3 linked regions of the Homo sapiens genome follow. The protein of the gene in region 2 interacts with the protein of the main gene of each other region in a pairwise test. Each region holds a gene or a part of one and is shown on either strand. Other genes may lie near its edges.

Region 1 (3,659 bases), on a different chromosome or scaffold from region 2:
TTTTTCTTAAATCTGAAAAGGAAACCCACTTGTTGGATATGAGCATTATTTGGTCCATTGATAAATTCTTCTAACTCTGCAAGGCGGTTTGTTTTAGCCAGTGCGAATATCAGTTCTGTCTCCACATAGGACTCTCGAGCCTTCTTACGGGCCATCTGCAAGTACTTCACCAGTTCTTCCCAGTTTCCTAAGTATAGAAAAAGAAAAAATATATCCAAACACTAACATCCTAGTTTATCTTTCACCCAAGTAAATGAAAATTGCATTCATTTCCTTTTCAAGGAAACATGGATAATGACAAATGTAAACCGTGCAATATTTCACTTCTGTATTATCACGGACCAAATGAATAGATGAATTCTTTTTCCTTAAAGTTTTAAGATTAGAGCACTATCAGGATTTTATGAGACTTCAAAAACAGAAGATTCATCTTCCCCACTTGTAAGTTTTGTGAACTTACAAATTCACAAAATACAGCCTCTTTTTATCTGGACTAAGATGGAGCACTAAAAGAAACCATGCAGTATCCAACTCTTCTAAAATTCAGAATAGACAGATATCTTAATGCTTAGCTTAATCATTTTATGAGGTTTCAATACATAAGGTAAGAAGTCATACCACTAGTATTGGCAGCCTGAACAACTTCCATGTAGGAGGAAGGATCATCTGCTTTGATATAAGAATCAATGGCTTCTTTCACCATTCCTTTCTGCAACTGGGCTTTTGCAAGTTGACTCCAGACCGCAGGTTCATTGCAACGTTCAGCAAACTCATATGCCCGATCCAAGTTTCCAATATGCTCAATTAAGACCTAAGTATCCAAGTTTGAAATTAGGGTTAGAGTAAAATCAATCCTACCCAAAGCAATTACATTTAAGCTGTTAGTATTTTATTGCTGCTCTATTGCCGTAGCAACCAATTAGGCCCACCCTCATAGCACAGTGTTTAGTAATTCAACTTAGGTAATCTGAAGATTTACCTGAACTGCTGAAGTATTGACATCAAATTTCCGGAAAATGGCAAATGCTTCTTCAAACAGCTCATTGCTGATGGCGATATTGGCAATATCTGGGGCATCATAATTATCCAGGCGGTTAATATACTCCATAACACGTGTACGGTCAGCCTTAATTGCAGTGAGGATAAGGAGGTTTTGCAGATTCCTTTAAGAAAAAAAAGAATATTTTAAATGCAATATTTTAAGTTTATCCGACATAAAAAATAACCACTGTGACTAACGGAGAGGTTTTTGTCTCAAGAGGTAGGGTAGGGGGGAGGATATTAGAAGAGTGAGAATTCAGGCAACTTTCTCTGATCTTTTTGTTCCTTCCCAAAACTGATGGGCCATAATTTATTAAAGACTGACTATAAATAGCCAATGGATCCCTCTGAAAGCATACCTGTGTTCACTGAATACAGAGTTATCAAGGACAATTTTCTCCAGCAGTTCAATGAGTTCATTAGGAAGGTCTGCAGTCATGAAAGCCTTTACAGTTACTGACACTTCTTCAGGGTCCTGAGTCTCAGACAAAGCTGTTTGTACAACCTACAGAGGATATATGGGACATAAGTACTGAGAATCAAGTTGGTTTTAAAAAAGCGTAAGTTGGCCTCTCATTAGAAAACTTGAAATAGGCAGAAAAGAATGAAGTAGGAAAAAGACCTTTAAATTTACATAGAGAGGTCTTTCTACACAAATCTATACAATATGTATAATTGTGTTGAAAAATTACTCTAATTATATAATTTCTATCTTTTCCCTGATTAAAACATTATCCAGGCTAGCAATCATCATTATCACTTTAATGGCTACACATAATTCAAAATTCAGCTACACAGATGTGGAATTAAAATATCGGTAATTCGTCTGGTTTTGGCTATTTGCTTGGTTTTCTAGATGCTGCAATGATTTCCAACCATCGCCCCCACCCCCACAACCTTCCCCTAGGAAGCTTTGTAACTACTTGGGAATGTTGCTTAGAAGTGCTTCCTAGGAAAGGAATGAAATATTAATAGCCTTCAACCTATTCGTTTCCAAAATATTTTATTTATACTTATCTCAGGAGAATTTAAGACTCATTATAACAACTCTTCTATTTTTAGAACTTTTAAAATATGTTGTCTATTTTATTTAGGTATAAAACCCCATCTCATTTGCAGTTCTATACTTCTTATTAGTAAGATATAACACTGATGCACTTGGTCTTTTGTATTTTCTCTTATCCTTATATTTTTCTGACTTATTATCTTGAAGTTTCCAATCAATTTAGCCACTTAAGTGTTAATAATAGCAATCTTTAATGTTTAGTTTGTTATTTTCCTTTTAAACTATGATGAACCAAGAGAGTTTTATATAATTAAGTCAGGTCTTTTGGGATGTATTTTCTTTTTCTTTTTTCTTTTTGTTTTTTTGAGACAGTCTTGCTCTTATCACCCAGGCTGGAGTGCAATGGCGTGATCTCGGCTTACTGCAACCTCCACCTCCCGGGTTCAAGCGATTTTCCTGCCGAGTAGCTGGGATTACATGCACCTGGCTAATTTTTGTATTTTTAGTAGAGATGGGGTTTTACTACGTTGGCCAGGCTGGTCTCGAACTCCTGACTTCAGGTGATCCACCCACCTCGGCCTCCCAAAGTGCTGGAATTACAGGCGTGAGCCACCGCACATGGCTTATTTTTCTTAATGTATGTTATATACATATTTATACTTATATAAATGTACATTCATTTGTATATAATGTATATAATCAATTTACATTCATTATATACAAATGAATGTAAATTGAATATATATAAATTTTAATTTTCTTCTACTTTGTATTGCTTTCTCTCATAGTTATATATGATCCATTTGAGTACATGATGAGGGAAAGGATTGTATTCATAGTTAAAAATGTATAATTTTTACTGACAGCCATAAACACATTTGCCAATGTTACCTGGTCAATTAGGGGTCTCCTGTAAGGATTGCTTTCCAGCAGCACGCTGCCCCACAATTCTGGATCCTTTCGACGTACCAGGTAGCGAGAAAGACTTTTGAAGAGGGAATTCTCATTGCAAACCTAAAGAAGATATGATAGATTAATTTCAAGGTAAAAAGTAAAGGACTTTTTATAGCATTTTAGAGGGTATTTCCTATCTTTTAAACTATGTTTATTGATAATCTTACTGATATTGGATCTAGTTTTGGACTTTGATTCATGTACCAGTAATATACTGTTTTAATTATATAGACTTTGTAATACACAGTTCAACATCTGGTAGGACTAGTCCACTTTTACAGTTTTCAGTGTTTTACTAGCTGTTCTTGTGTGTTTATTTTTCCATGCGTATATGCACATGTATGTACATAAATGAGCATATGTATGTACATAAATGTAACTAAGCCCTGACCACTGAAAGATCTTAGAAGCAAATACACTAAAGCTCAGATCTTGACTTCTAATATTTTCAGAAAGTAGGAGTCTTGCTCTGTTGTCAAGGTTGGAGAGTGCAGTGTTGCGATCATAGCTCACTGCAACATTGACCTCCTGGGCTCAAGTGATCCTCCTGCCTCAGCTTTCTGGGTAGCTTGAAACCAAGTGCATGGCACCTCCCCCCAGCTAATCATGTAATTTTTTGTAGAGACGGGGGGCTCGCTATGTTGCCCAGGCTGGTTTC
Region 2 (3,659 bases):
AACTCAGTTTGCTTGTTCTTTCTTTTCCATTGTAATGATTCCTGGCTTCTTCACACGAAGTGCATATGGTGTGCAATTATTAGAGGAAAGTGCCTTGAGTCTGCTCCATTTTCTTTAAAGTGTAACTGTTGTCCATAGTGACAAATAAGAGAGAAAACAAAAGTAGGTAAAATAAGGGCACATCTTTATTTTGCTACAAGGCAGTAAGTACACCGTCATATCTCAAAAGTTCAGTGCTGGCCATCTTGCATCAAATGTTCTTAAGGCAGTGACTGGCTATCAACCACAGTTTCTGTCTCCCCAGTTGCAAACACAGGATCCATGCAACAGTTCTGAGACCATACACTTAGAAACCACAGGGGATGCGGATCAAATGCAGAACTCCCAAATTATAAAACAGTCAGGCTACACTCAAAACAAAACATAGAACATCAACAACACACATCTCCCAAAAAAGAAGTGCAACGCATGCTTGTATAAACCAACAATAACAAAAAAACCACAATAAAAAATGCAGAGTCTCCCAAACAAGTTTTCAAATGTATTGCAGAAGGAAAAAAAATGTATATATATATAAAATTAAAAAGTCTGAAATACTAGTGCATAGTCAATTACCTAACACCAAGTTTCTTTTCTTTCTGTCCAAGCTCTACTGCCCCTCTGATACTAGCAGCATGTCTACAGGCTAAGACCATAGCAGCAAAAAACGTTTTTCATTTGGCATTTACAAAATTAAATTACTGAATAAAAATATAATTTTTTATAAAACTATTTCTTACAGTAATAATTTTTAAAGCAAGCTAACAGAAAACTCATAAAATGGTTTGGTACAATAAATGTACCTTCAATGTCATTAACCATAAATGAGCATTTACAATCTGGATTAAATGTCACATGGTATTAAGTCTACACTTAGAGTAATGCTTTTACTGATTTTTAAAAATATATGCATATGTTTAGTGATCGAGAAAAGTGAAATACTGGAGTACCTTTTAATGTGTCAAATTTCAAAAAACCCATCACAGGAAAAAATACTGATCTGTTGGATCCTTTAAAATACAGATAAATCATTTTATGTTTTTTTTAAAAAAATCTGCATTAAGATATTAACAACTGGCTACAATTCATTACCTAATAATTTAGGTAAGACTGTTATTTATTTTTAAAAATCCTTTTAGTTGGGTGAAATCCAAGAAGACTTCATTCAACTAAATGCACTTGGTGCTGCTCTCAACTGTTGTACCACAACAAAAATAGGTTCTTCTCCCATTCATGAAAAGTTTCATGTTGAGGAATGATATATCCCAAGTCAACTTGAAGTGTTCTGAAAACCATAATGCTTTTCTGGAAATGTCTCACATGACCAGCGTCCGGGCTGAGAATGCATTCACGTATTTACGAGCTTGACTGGAAGATGTCATCTGCTCCTCCATCTTTCCACAGGATGCAGGTTCCCAGGTACTGCTACAAGGCTGATGGAGAAAGGGATGGCAACAGGAGCGTCAGACAAAGAAGCTCATTCTATAGACCCAGCAGGGCCAGCACTGACCAACAGATGGCAAGTGGTTGACACCAGGAAGGCTTTGTCAGATAGAATCTTACCTCCCTGGCCCCCAGAAATCCGGTGTTCTTAAGGGATATGGATGATCAGAAATTATTTGTTAAGAGGGAAAACCCATTCCAAGCAGCTTCATAAGATATAATCCCATCTTCATATTTTAATGCCTTCCGTCTATTAGGCAATTTTACAAAGCTGGAGACAGGAATGAGCATTATTCTCCAGATACCTAAAGTGAGCTATGGCCATCTACTCACTAAGCAAACTGCTGAGTGCTGTAGCCACAGTGCAAAGCAGCTCATGCACGCACTGGAATTGATCAACACCTGCTAAGTGTCATATATATGTTTTCATCAATTACTTTAGAAATATTTATCAGTATAGTTTAATTTTTTTCCTTTTTTTTTTGAGACAGAGTCATGCTCTGTCATACCAGGCTGATCGGTATTGGTGCAATCACAGCTCACTGTAGCCTCAGCCTCCTGGGCTCAAGTGATCCTCCTACCTCAGCTACCCAAGCAGCTGGGACTACAGGCACGTGCCACCAAGCCCCACTAATTTTTGTATTTTCTGTAGAGACAGGGTTTCACCATGTTGCCCAGGTTGGTCTTGAACTCCTGGACTCAAGTGATCTGCCGGTCTTGGCCTCCCAAAGTGCTGAGATTACAGGCATGAAGCCAGTATAGTTTAATTTTTAAAGATACACTAGAAGATACAAGATGGACCTAATATCTAAGGACAGCATCTCCATGCCAGGGACAGTGGCACTTCACATTTCACATGCATTATTTCATTAAAACAGCACCATCACCTCGGGAGGCAGGTTCATTCTCTCTCTAGACAGGCTCGAGAATGGAGACAGAAAATGGAGGTAACTTGCCCAAGGCCACTCTGTAGGTAAGTGGTGGACTGGCTTTGAACTTTGCTGTCTCCAGCTCCTGCGATGCCTCTGTGTTGCCTCAAATGCAAACATGTACTATTTATGCCCCACTTGGTTTCCAAAAGGACGTAAGATGATTAGAAAAGAAATACAAGACAACAGAGTTTAAAAATGTGTATAAAGAAGAGTCATAACAGGGAAACAAATTTGGAAAAAATAAACACAGTTGGCCCTCTGCATCTGTGGGTCCCATATCTGTGGGTTCCACATCCATAGATTCAATCAATGGCAGATCAAAAATATTCAGAAAAAAATAATTGCTGTGTATTGAACATGTATAGGTGTTTTCCTTGTCATTATCCCCTAACAATATAACAACTATTTCCATAGCATTTACATTGTATTAGCTATTATAAGTAATCTAGAGATGACTTAAAGTATACAGGAATGAACGGGTACAATGTACATTATTCCAACGATAAATACACTCACAGCCTCGACTTTGACCACTATGCAATACATCCATGTAACAAAATTACACTTGTACCCCACGAATGTATACAAATAATAAAAAAAATTATATGGTAAGATGTGTGTAGATTATATGCAAACACAATGCTATTTTATATCAGGGACTTGAGCATCCCTGGACTTTGGTGTCCTTGCGGGTTCTGAAACAAATCCCCCATGGACACTAAGGAACAACTGTAACATGAAGATGGTATGAGATTTGCACACGAAACACCAGCATAAAGCACAGTGCCCCAGCTAGATGTAACCTCCTGCTTGACTCTGATCTCTCTAGCAGTCAATGCAGAGAGGGGAACAGAAACAAACAGATATAAGATTTGGTGGCTGTAAGCTCAAAAGGAAACCAGTGGGTTAGAAAAGGCACTATTCCTGGTATTGCTATCTGGAGGGATTATTTTCCATGGGACAAAAGAATAAGAAAGGCCTTAGCTGTTCAGAGCCTACAGTGTCCTTTATGAGACAGAATGGACACAGGTGAAACAGGAGGAATAATAACAGGCCGTGTGCGCAGGTTTGTGGTGTTGTCCATGGGAAGAGGGGATGGGACACTGAGGAACTGTCAAGGCAATGCTGTGGGGAAAGGGTGAAAACAGCTAAGATTAGGGGAGAGAGAGGTGGAAACGCAGGGATGTCATCCAGGGAGCGAGATAGCAGGAAAGAGGCAGGAAGCTGCAATTTGTACATTGCCAG
Region 3 (3,659 bases), on a different chromosome or scaffold from region 2:
CCAGTAAAGAAGGACTGATGTCCTGCCACCAGGCAAGTAGAGGCTGAGGAAGTGTACCCCTGCCTTTTCAGTGACTTGACTTTAGCAATCCTCAATATTTCGGGGAGAAATATTTTGGCTTCCCTCAGTTTGAAGTGTTAGGTTTTTGTTTCACCCCAGCTATGGAATTCTCCTGGTGAAATGGTCCTGCTGTTCTTCCTCACCTGCACCCAATCAGCCAGCATCACCTGCACTCAATCATGCAGCATCACCTGCACCCAGTCATCCAGCATCACCTGCACACAATCAGCATCACCTGCATCCAATCAGCCAGCATCACCTGCACCCAAGCAATCAGCATCACCTGCACCCAGTCAGCCAGCATCACCTGCACCCAATCAGCCAGCATCACCCACACCCAATCAGCCAGCATCATCTGCACCCAATCAGCCAGCATCACCTGCACCCAATCAATCAGCATCACTTGCACCCAATCAGCCAGCATCATCTGCACCCAATCAGCCAGCATCACCCGCACCCAATCAGCCAGCATCACCTGCACCCAATCAGCATCACCTGCATCCAATCAGCATCACCTGCACCCAATCAGCATCACCTGCATCCAGTCAGCCAGCATCACCTGCACCCAATCAACCAGCATCACCTGCACCCAATCAGCATCACCTGCATCCAATCAGCATCACCTGCACCCAATCAGCAGCACCTGCACCCAGTCAACCAGCACCACCTGCACCCAATCAGCATCACCTGCACACAGCCAGCATCACCTGCACCCAATCAGCCAACATCACCTGCACCCAATCAGCCAACATCGCCTGCACCCAGTCATCTAGCATCACCTGCACCCAGTCATCCAGCATCACCTGCACCCAATCGGCCAGCATCACTTGCATCCAGTCAGCCAGCATCACCTGCACCCAATCAGCATCACCTGCACCCAATCAGCTAACACCTGCACCCAATCAGCCAGCATCACCTGCACCCAATCAGCCAGCATCACCTGCACCCAATCAGCATCACCTGCACCCAATCAGCCAACATCACCTGCACCCAGTCAGCCAGCATCACCTGCACCCAATCAGCTAGCATCACCTGCACGCAGTCAATCAGCATCACCTGCACCCAATCAGCATCACCTGCACCCATTCAGCCAGCATCACCTGCACCCAATCAGCATCACCTGCACCCAATCAGCCAGCAACACCTGCACCCAGCCAGCATCACCTGCACCCAATCAATCAGCATCACCTGCACCCAATCAGCCAGCATCACCTCCACTTGGAAGCTGCCCCAACTTCCCTTTTCCACCAAGCCAAATAATCGCCCACCTCTACTTCTGTGGCATCCTTTGCATGCTACTAATCAGTGTCTTCATTGTCCTGAACTGCCCCCCAACACACACCCAGTCCATGAGCTGACAGTTCTCTAAAACTCCTGAGCCACTATAGTCTCTAGCACAGTATAGTGTAGGCTTCCAAAACTGGCAGCAAACACTTGTTAATTAATTGCATGAAGGGTTTCAAGTCTATAGATATCCCACATCGTGTGTTATAGATATCCCACTTCATTTTATCTAACAGATACTTAGGCAGAGTTTACTATGTGCTGGGCTCTGTTCAAAATAAGTACTACTATCCCCATTTTTCAAGGAAAATCTAAAGCATACAGAGGTCAATGCACCTCTGCTCACCCAGCCAGATAATAGAGGCAGGATTCAAATCCTAGAAGCCTGCTCTTAGAGACAGCACTCATAACCATTACATTGAGCTACCTCTCACCATTGGGCTATCTGGATTCTCCCTTTGTGATGTTAAATTATGGAATTAAATCAAGATATCTTGAAGGGTGTTTGCTAAATTGTTAGGCGTGATTACCTCTGGTGATGGGATTTCAGAGGATTGCAACTTCTTTACTCTTTACTTTTAACTACTATTTATATTTTACTAACTAAATATTAGCTTTATCCTTGCTGGTTAATTCTAAATGTTACTACTTTTGCCCAACAGGTAGGCTTTACATTTTCACTGTTTGCCTATGTATTGGTCTGTTCTCACACTGCTAATAAAGATATACTTGAGACTGGGTAATTTATAAAGGAAAGAGGTTTAATGGGCTCACAGTTCCACATGGCTGGAGAGGCCACACAATCATGGTGGAAGGTGAAAGAGGAGCAAAGTCATGTCTTATATGGTGGCAGGCAAGAGAGCATGTGCAGGGGAACTACCCTTTATAAAACCATCAGATCTTGTGAGACTTCACTATTATGAAAACGGCATGGGAAAGACCCACCGCCATGATTCAGTTACCTCCTACCAGGTCCCTCCCACAACACATGGGAATTATGGTAGCTATAATTCAATATGAGATTTGGGTGGGGACACAGCCAAACCATATCAGCTTACAAGCTGTTACACAGATGACCGCTTAGCAAAACAGGTAAAATCTTTGAATTAGCGAGATTGTGCTAAGGCAGAGTCTAGCTTATAATCATAGGCATTTGGTTCTGATTGCAGTTACATCATGCTGATGACAGCTTCCTGGTCCTCACCACAGATGGAATTAACTTCATGGTGAATAGTCAAGAGATTTGTGACTTTGTCAATCAGTGCCATGATCCCAACGAAGCAGCCCATGCGGTGACTGAACAGGTGACCCAGAGCTTCTGCCTGAAAAGTCCCAAGGAGAAGGAAGGAAAGGACAGTCCAGGCATTGTGTTTTAGCTTTTGAGTGTTGCAGTGAATTTTACACTTGATTCCATAATATTTCCAATTATAAAATTTTTATTTCCCCAAGTTAAAATTTTAATATGCCAAGGAAATGTGCTTTGTTTATTCTTTGGCTTTGTATATACCTTGAAATGATAGTAACAGCAATAGTAAATTATAATAGTAAACTAATATTCACTTGCTATGTGTCAGACAATATTCATATGTATTAGCTCATTACTGTATGTATTGTACAGTATGTACAGTTACATATATTGTAATCATCACAATAACCCTATTAGGTTGGAGCTATTATTGTCCTTTTTCACAGATGAGGAAAACAGGTACAGAGGCTACAGAGTTAATCACTGAAGGTCATAAAACTATTAAATTGCAGAACTGGACTTCAAACCCAGACAACTAGGTTCCCAAGTCCAACCACTTGACCGTTAAACTAGAGTGCTCCAAGCAAATATCCAATTTGAAGATATAGCATAGTCACCTTCTGGTTATTCAGAATGGGTGTGTGGAGAAGATAAACCAAAATACCAAAAGGCATAGGGATGAGGTTGTGTGTCAGTCAGAACTAAAATTAAAAGAAAGCTGGGTAATATCCAGTAAAGAAAACATAAACTATGCTTCGTATTATTTAAAATATTAGAGGCATGTTTTAATTCAACAGCTATTTTTGCATTTCCCAAATTAAGATAATAGACCTTACTTTAAAAGTATTATTTGCTTAGATGGGCAAACATGATTATAATATATGAATTATTCATTTGGTTACTGCCTTCACCCGTGCTAAACAGGGTATTCATGAAATTGAGGAAATAGGCCCAATTTCATGGATGAACACTTCTTTCCTAATTTCAGCTGCCTGTCTTGCAGATATTTGCATTCTAATTCACAAAGGTAATGAAATTTGTAATGAATGCATAGTGTTCCATTTTATTC

The links.
Region 1: the proteins of MYB (region 2) and CLTC interact in binary tests that used the Homo sapiens proteins (3 or more experiments, as listed by UniProt).
Region 3: the proteins of MYB (region 2) and PPM1K interact in a two-hybrid assay, tested with the Homo sapiens proteins (one large-scale study listed by BioGRID and IntAct).

What each region holds. Positions count from the first base shown.
Region 1 is NC_000017.11:59,678,799-59,682,457, reverse strand, and holds part of CLTC (clathrin heavy chain 1), read right to left. Parts: intron 3,062-3,659; coding exon 2,939-3,061; intron 1,547-2,938; coding exon 1,401-1,546; intron 1,164-1,400; coding exon 980-1,163; intron 812-979; coding exon 619-811; intron 188-618; coding exon 30-187; intron 1-29. UniProt on the Homo sapiens protein: Clathrin is the major protein of the polyhedral coat of coated pits and vesicles. Two different adapter protein complexes link the clathrin lattice either to the plasma membrane or to the trans-Golgi network.
Region 2 is NC_000006.12:135,215,677-135,219,335, reverse strand, and holds the end of MYB (transcriptional activator Myb), read right to left. Parts: intron 2,456-3,659; exon of another isoform or gene 1,473-2,455; coding exon 1,356-1,472; 3' UTR 164-1,355; downstream 1-163. UniProt on the Homo sapiens protein: Transcriptional activator; DNA-binding protein that specifically recognize the sequence 5'-YAAC[GT]G-3'. Plays an important role in the control of proliferation and differentiation of hematopoietic progenitor cells.
Region 3 is NC_000004.12:88,263,990-88,267,648, reverse strand, and holds part of PPM1K (protein phosphatase Mn(2+)-dependent 1K), read left to right. Parts: intron 1-2,513; coding exon 2,514-2,648; intron 2,649-3,659. UniProt on the Homo sapiens protein: Serine/threonine-protein phosphatase component of macronutrients metabolism.